Linked DNA regions of Homo sapiens. The protein of the gene in region 1 interacts with the protein of each later gene in a biochemical or structural test. Each region holds a gene or a part of one and is shown in the gene's direction. Other genes may lie near its edges.

The links.
Region 2: of the proteins of TYSND1 (region 1) and ACOX1, one has a biochemical effect on the other in vitro, tested with the Homo sapiens proteins (one study listed by BioGRID).

The regions. Positions count from the first base shown.
Region 1 is NC_000010.11:70,140,591-70,143,700, reverse strand, and holds part of TYSND1 (peroxisomal leader peptide-processing protease), read left to right. Parts: intron 1-847; coding exon 848-1,033; intron 1,034-3,110. UniProt on the Homo sapiens protein: Peroxisomal protease that mediates both the removal of the leader peptide from proteins containing a PTS2 target sequence and processes several PTS1-containing proteins.
Region 2 is NC_000017.11:75,947,982-75,952,162, reverse strand, and holds part of ACOX1 (peroxisomal acyl-coenzyme A oxidase 1), read left to right. Parts: intron 1-585; coding exon 586-748; intron 749-1,198; coding exon 1,199-1,389; intron 1,390-2,265; coding exon 2,266-2,445; intron 2,446-2,562; coding exon 2,563-2,668; intron 2,669-2,802; coding exon 2,803-2,946; intron 2,947-3,705; coding exon 3,706-3,912; intron 3,913-4,181. UniProt on the Homo sapiens protein: Involved in the initial and rate-limiting step of peroxisomal beta-oxidation of straight-chain saturated and unsaturated very-long-chain fatty acids.

The DNA.
Region 1 (3,110 bases):
TGGTGGGGCACATGGAGTGCCCTGGGAAGGATAATGCTGCACGCCCTTTCCCCGAGTGCCTGCAGCAATGTAGTGTGAGGATGCTGGGCCTTTGGGGTTCCTTAACACTTCAGGCTGGTCAGAGAGGCATGTGGCACTTTCAAGGCTCCAGGGGCACGATTTGGGTAAAAGGCTTTGTGATGCTGCCACATAAGTACTGATGTTGCACTCCATGGAGGCAGTGTGATACAGTGATGAAGGGTCCAGGGGCTCTGGATGGGCATCTTTCCTATGCCACCTATTAGTCCCATGTCCTTGGACAGGCTAGTTAACTATCCTCTGCCTCATTTTCCACGTCTTTGAAATGGGGCTAATGCATCCTATTTCTGGGTGTTGTGAGGGCTGGGTGTGACGTTGCCTGTAAAGCACTTACCCCCATACCCTGCACTTGGAAAAGGAAGGTCATGGCTGCATTATAGCCATCATCACCATTTCTTTTCACGAAGAGACTTCTTAGGAGTTCCAGGAGGAGATGGGTGTGAATTCCACAAACATTTATTGAGCATGTAGGTAGGTGTTAGGAACTCCTAAAAGTCACTGCCCCGCCTGTCCAGGGAACAAGGACTAGGGAACAGCCTGTTGCTCAGAAGTGGTCATGCAGATACAGTGCTAGGAGCTCAGTGGAGTTCTCAGCCTCTTCCAGCCAGGGGACATGGGGAAGGCTCTCTGGAGGCAGGAGTATCTGAGCAGAAACTTGAAGGGTGGAGAGGTTTGGAATGTTTGGAGAGGGTAGGGATGGGAGTTAGGGAGTGTGAGTCCTGCTGTAACACAGGTGTCCCCAGCTTCACCCTCCTTCCTTCCCTGGCAGGCGAGGCTGTGAGTGTGGTGGGCTTTGGCGTCTTTGGCCAGTCTTGCGGGCCCTCGGTGACCTCAGGCATCCTTTCGGCTGTGGTGCAGGTGAATGGCACGCCCGTAATGCTGCAGACCACGTGTGCTGTGCACAGCGGCTCCAGTGGGGGACCCCTCTTCTCCAACCACTCAGGAAACCTCCTTGGTAACCAGCTCTTTGGCCCCCTCCCGCCCTCCCACTTGCCAGAACCTCAGTCCCACCCCATGAGTGCTTGTGGCCAGCCCCAGTGCACCCTCTGTCTGGGAAAATGGTGGGCATTATGAGTGAGCTAGCGAAGGTTTGCAGGCTGTTCTCCTGATGGTGGAGAGGGACGGATGCTGGACTGGGAGGAAAGAGATCTGGGCTCTGGTCCCTTCTCTGCTACTAATCTAATCTGGTTTGATCTGTGAAATTGAGGAGTTGGATTAGTCAAAGCGTCACAGACTCAAAAGCCAACAGAGGCTGGAAAGATAAAGCAAATGAATGAGAAGACAACAGGGAGGGGAGGGGAGGGGTCTAAACTGAAGCGCACTCGACTCAGCTGCTGCAGACTGTGGCCATGAAGGAGGATGGGCCTAACGTTGGCTGGTATTCTAATATTTTCACAAGACATGTAAAGCTTTTTTAAAAAAATACATGTGGCCGTTAAATCGATCAATTTTTAAATTTTGGTAACATTCAGGTTTTTAAAAAACAGTCTGTTTAGCTGTCAAAAAGAAAAAAACATGAGTTCATCTAGAAACCTCCAACTCCAGTCCAGTCTAACTCTCCTTGTTTCTTCTTTCTCCTGTAGTGAAAAACCTTGCTCTTGTTGTCTACAATATGTTTACTTATCTGTTCCATCCTAGTATACAAGTAAAATTGTATTTGCATAACTTTAGTATATTTCCTCTAAATATTTAGTACTTACAAAGAGGAAATATTGGAGCCGTAAGTAATATTTAGAGCCATAAGTCTAGGCCTGGTGTGGTAGCTCGTGCCAGTAATCCCAACACTTCCGGAGGCTGAGGCAAGAGGATCACTTGAAATGGGAGTTCGAGACCAGCCTGGGCAACATAGTGAGACTCTGCCTCTATTTTTATTTAAAAAAATTTTTTTTAATTAAAAAAAAAGAAAGGAAAATACTAAGTCTACCTTGGAGAGGCCTGGCAGATACCACCTCAGCCAAGTGATCAAGGTGAACGTCAGAAGTACTCCATACAGACATCAGATAGCTGAGACACTGGGAAGGACACATGGCTTTTATGGTATTCTTCCCAATAATGTGTAACCTTAAACAATTAAAAGTAATGGCAAAACAATTAAAAGTAATGACAAAAACCGCATTCATTTTTGCACCAACCCAATAGTCATGAGAAAACATTAGGTAGGCCTCAATTGAGGGTCATTCTCTAAAATCACTGACCTGAGCCAGACATGGTGGTATGTGCCTGTAGTCCTGGCTCTGCAGGAATCTGAAGTGGGAAGATCACTTGAGCCCAGGAGTTCAAGGCTGCAGTGAACTATGGTCACCATTACACTTTAGCCTGTGTGACAGAGCGAGACCCATCTCAAAAAAATAAACAGTGTTTATTTAAAAAAAAAAAAAAAAAAGCCAGGTATGGTGGCTCGCACTTGTAATTCTAGCACTTTTGGAGGCCAGGGCGGGAGGATTGCTTGAGTCTGGGAGTTCAAGACCAAGCTGGACAACCATAGTGAGGCCCCATCTCTACAAAATATTTTAGGGAGGCTGAGGCGGGAGAATCACTTGAGCCCAGGAGGTTGAGGTTGCAGTGAGCTATAATCCCACCACTGCACTCTAGCATGGGTGACAGAGCGAGACCTTGCCTCTAAAAAAACAAAAACAAGAACAAAAAAAAAAACTGTAAATAAATAAAATAACCTGCACTTTTAAAAATGTCAAGGCCACGAAAGATAAGGAAAGACTGAGGAACTGACCCAGATTGGAGGAGATTTGGGAGATGCGACAACTAAATGGAATATGGAGTCCTAGACTGGATATTGGAACTGAAAAAGGACATTAGTGGAAAAACTAGTGCAACTCATGTCAATGAGTTCTGTAGTTCACTTAATAACAGTATTCTACCAAGGTATATGTTTTGGTTTTGATAAATATTTTTTGGTGACATTAGATACGAACATAAAGGAAAGCTGGTCAAAGGGTATATAGAATTCTGCAATATTTAGGCAAGACTTCTGTATGTCTGAAATTATCTTTAAAAAACTACACACACATCCATGC
Region 2 (4,181 bases), on another chromosome or scaffold:
AGTAGAGCTTTTTGGCATTGCCTTCTTATTAGGTTGACTAGCGTTGGTTTTGTATGTTGCTATGAGCTACGGTTTTCTTAGTCATACTGGAAAGACTAGGACAGATATGGACTTTGCAGCCAGAAAATTCTGTCAGCCTACGCAGTACAAGGTAATTACAGCATGGTCTTAGGGAGCCAAATAGCCTAGGCACCGTGGCTCATGCCTGTAATCCCACCACTGTGGGAGGCTGAGGCAAGAGAATCGCTTGAACTTGGGAGGCGGAGCTTGCAGTGAGCCAAGATCGCACCACTGCACTAAAGCCTGGGTGACAGAGGGAGACTCCATCACAAAAAAAAAAAAAAAAAAAAAAAAGCCTCAATTTAAATCTAAGACCTGCCACATACGAGCTGTGTGACCTCAGGCAGATTCTTAACCTCTCAGTTTCCCATTTGTAAAATGGAGATAGTAATAGTAACTACCTCACAGTGCCCTTAAGAGGACTAAATAAGTTAAAATACCAAGTGCTTAGATTAGAACCTGGCATATAGAAAGTTCTGTATAAACATTTACTTACTACTTTTTTTCTTTTTCTATGTCACGTAGTGAACCAGAACCACAGATTTTGGATTTTCAAACCCAGCAGTATAAACTCTTTCCACTCCTGGCCACTGCCTATGCCTTCCAGTTTGTGGGCGCATACATGAAGGAGACCTATCACCGGATTAACGAAGGCATTGGTCAAGGGGACCTGAGTGAACTGCCTGAGGTATGAGTTTGGTCTCATTCACTCATGGGCACCCTTCTGTTTCGTGGTTGCCTGTTGGATGAGGTCCAGAGATAACTAAATGTTGGTATTTCCTGAAAAGAAGTATGTATTCTGAGAACTTCTTCTGGTTGAAAGTAGATCAGATATGAAGATCTGTGGGGTTTGTTGTTCAGTATTTTTAGTGTTATCAGAAATACTGTACCATGTTGATTATTTGTCAATCAAGGAAATGTAAGTGGTGAATGTTTAGCCAAGTAGAACAGCTTAGATGGGCATGGGTAGTGTTCTGTATTCTTCTGGCCAGTCGGACAGCTGTGCTTCTTCAGTTTGCATGTGTGGCAGCTGTGTTTTGACAGTGGCCAAGATGTTAGAGGAGGGGTGTGTTTTCTCATTGGTTCTCGGGCTCTCAGCACCACAGATGTCCTGACAGATCTGTGCTTGTCCTCTCAGCTTCATGCCCTCACCGCTGGACTGAAGGCTTTCACCTCCTGGACTGCAAACACTGGCATTGAAGCATGTCGGATGGCTTGTGGTGGGCATGGCTATTCTCATTGCAGTGGTCTTCCAAATATTTATGTCAATTTCACCCCAAGCTGTACCTTTGAGGGAGAAAACACTGTCATGATGCTCCAGACGGCTAGGTGAGAGTCAAATCCTCGATTCCTCCCATCTGTTCATAAGAATGTTCTAGTCCTTTTCCTAGGTTCTTGTTCCCATGGTTTTTCTTCACCGTATATATATATTTGTTCCTGAAAGGTATACTTTTGCCTTCCATCCTGACTCACGGTTTTTATTTCGTGGTGAGGCTAGAGAGTATGAAGCACCTGTTACATAGCTTGCAGTTGTATCAAGGATAGAGTTACTGGGCTGGGCACAGTGGCTCATGACTGTAATCCCAGCACTTTGGGAAGCTGAGGTGGGCAGATCATGAGGTAAGGAGTTCAAGACCAGCTTGATCAACATGGTGAAACCGTGTCTCTACTAAAAAAATACAAAAAAATTAGCCGGGCATGATGGCACATTGCCTGTAATCCCGGCCTACTTGGGAGGCTGAGGCAGAAGAATCGCTTGAACCTGGGAAGCGGAGGTTGCAGTGAGCCAAGATTGCGCTATTGCACTCCATCCTGGGCAACAAGAGCGAAAACTCCATCAAAAAAAAAAAGGCCAGGTGTGGTGGCTTACTCCTGTAATCCCAGCACTTTGGGACGCCAAGCCGGGTAGATCACTTGAGGTCAGGAGTTAAGAGACCAGCCTGGCCAACATGGTAAAACCCTGTCTCTACTAAAAAAACAAAATATTAAAAATTAGCCAGGAATGGTGGCAGGTGCCTGTAGTCCCAGCTACTTGGGAGGCTGAGGCAGGAGAATCATTCATTTGAACCCAAGAGGAGGAGGTTGCAGTGAGCTGAGATCTGGCCATTGCACTCCATCCAGCCTAGGCAACAAGAATGAAACTCCATCTCAAAAGAAACAAAAGAAAGTAGAGTTACTAAAAGCATGTTTACTGGTGACTTTTAGGTTCCTGATGAAAAGTTATGATCAGGTGCACTCAGGAAAGTTGGTGTGTGGCATGGTGTCCTATTTGAACGACCTGCCCAGTCAGCGCATCCAGCCACAGCAGGTAGCAGTCTGGCCAACCATGGTGGATATCAACAGCCCCGAAAGCCTAACCGAAGCATATAAACTCCGTGCAGCCAGGTGAGCTCTCCCTCAAGAGCTAGAATACGCAGCAGTGGGGCTGGGGCCCTGACAGATGGCAAGAAGGCATGAGTACTGTTGATCATTTCCTCAGACCTCCAATCTATGTCTTAACAGATTAGTAGAAATTGCTGCAAAAAACCTTCAAAAAGAAGTGATTCACAGAAAAAGCAAGGAGGTAGCTTGGAACCTAACTTCTGTTGACCTTGTTCGAGCAAGTGAGGTCAGTGGTAGTTCTCTCTTTTTCCCCTTCCCTGCCCTCAGCATCCCGCATTTTCTGGTACAGAAACCCTAGTCACTGTATATTGAATCTTTTTCCAAGGTTCTCAAACTCTGGTGTTTTCTTTTTAATCTTAGGCACATTGCCACTATGTGGTAGTTAAGCTCTTTTCAGAAAAACTCCTCAAAATTCAAGATAAAGCCATTCAAGCTGTCTTAAGGAGTTTATGTCTGCTGTATTCTCTGTATGGAATCAGTCAGAACGCGGGGGATTTCCTTCAGGTCAGTATTTTCTAAGTATAAGTCTTTTTTGTTGTTGTTTTAAGAAAAATAATTGTTGGCTGGGCACGGTGGCTCATGCCTGTAATCCCAGCACTTTGGGAGCCCAAGGCGGGTACGGTGATCACTTGAGGTCAGGAGTTCAAGACCAGCCTGGCCTGGTGAAACCCTGTCTCTACTAAAAATACAAAAATTAGCCAGGTGCAGTGGCACATGCCTGTAATCCCAGCTACTAGGGAGGCTGAGGCACGAGAATCATTTGAACCCTGGAGGCAGAGGTTGCAGTGAGCCAAGATGAAACCACTGCATTCCAGCCTGGGTGACAGAGCAATACTCTGTCTCAAAAAAAAAAAAAAAGAAAAAGAAAAATAGCCAGGCACAGTGGCTCATGCCTGTAATCCCAACACTTTGGCCAAGGCGGGCAGATCACCTGAGGTCGGGAGTTCGAGACCAGCCTGACCAACATGGAGAAACCCCATCTCTACTAAAAATACAAAATTAGCCAGGTGTGCTGGCGCATGCCTGTAATTCCAGCTATTTGGGAGGCCAAGGGAGGAGAATTGCTTGAACCTGGGAGGCGGAGATTGCGGTGAGCCAAGATCACACCATTGTACTCCAGCCTGGGCAACAAGAGTGAAACTCAGTCTCAAAAAAAAAAAAAGAAAAAAATAATTGTCATCCGCTTTATAGCTGTATATGCATATAATTATGTCTATCTATATACATATATATGTTTTATTTACTTATTTTGGTCTCTTTTAGGGGAGCATCATGACAGAGCCTCAGATTACACAAGTAAACCAGCGTGTAAAGGAGTTACTCACTCTGATTCGCTCAGATGCTGTTGCTTTGGTTGATGCATTTGATTTTCAGGATGTGACACTTGGCTCTGTGCTTGGCCGCTATGATGGGAATGTGTATGAAAACTTGTTTGAGTGGGCTAAGAACTCCCCACTGAACAAAGCAGAGGTAAAAATCCAGTGTCTCTGCACCTTTTTAAAAGTCTTCACTTAAATATTGAAGCAGGAAAGGCCTCTCGAAGGGGATTTATCTGTGAAAGCTCTGAAAGTACCATGGCCACTTCTGACAGTCACTTTATTTGAGCAACAGGTTCAGAAGGGAACTGGGTTGTTCCCACAGTAACCAGGGTCTTAATCAATTTCAATTTTTGATAACGAATTGAACATTTAAAAATATATACAGGCCGGGTGCGTTGGCTCACACCTGTAATCCCAGCA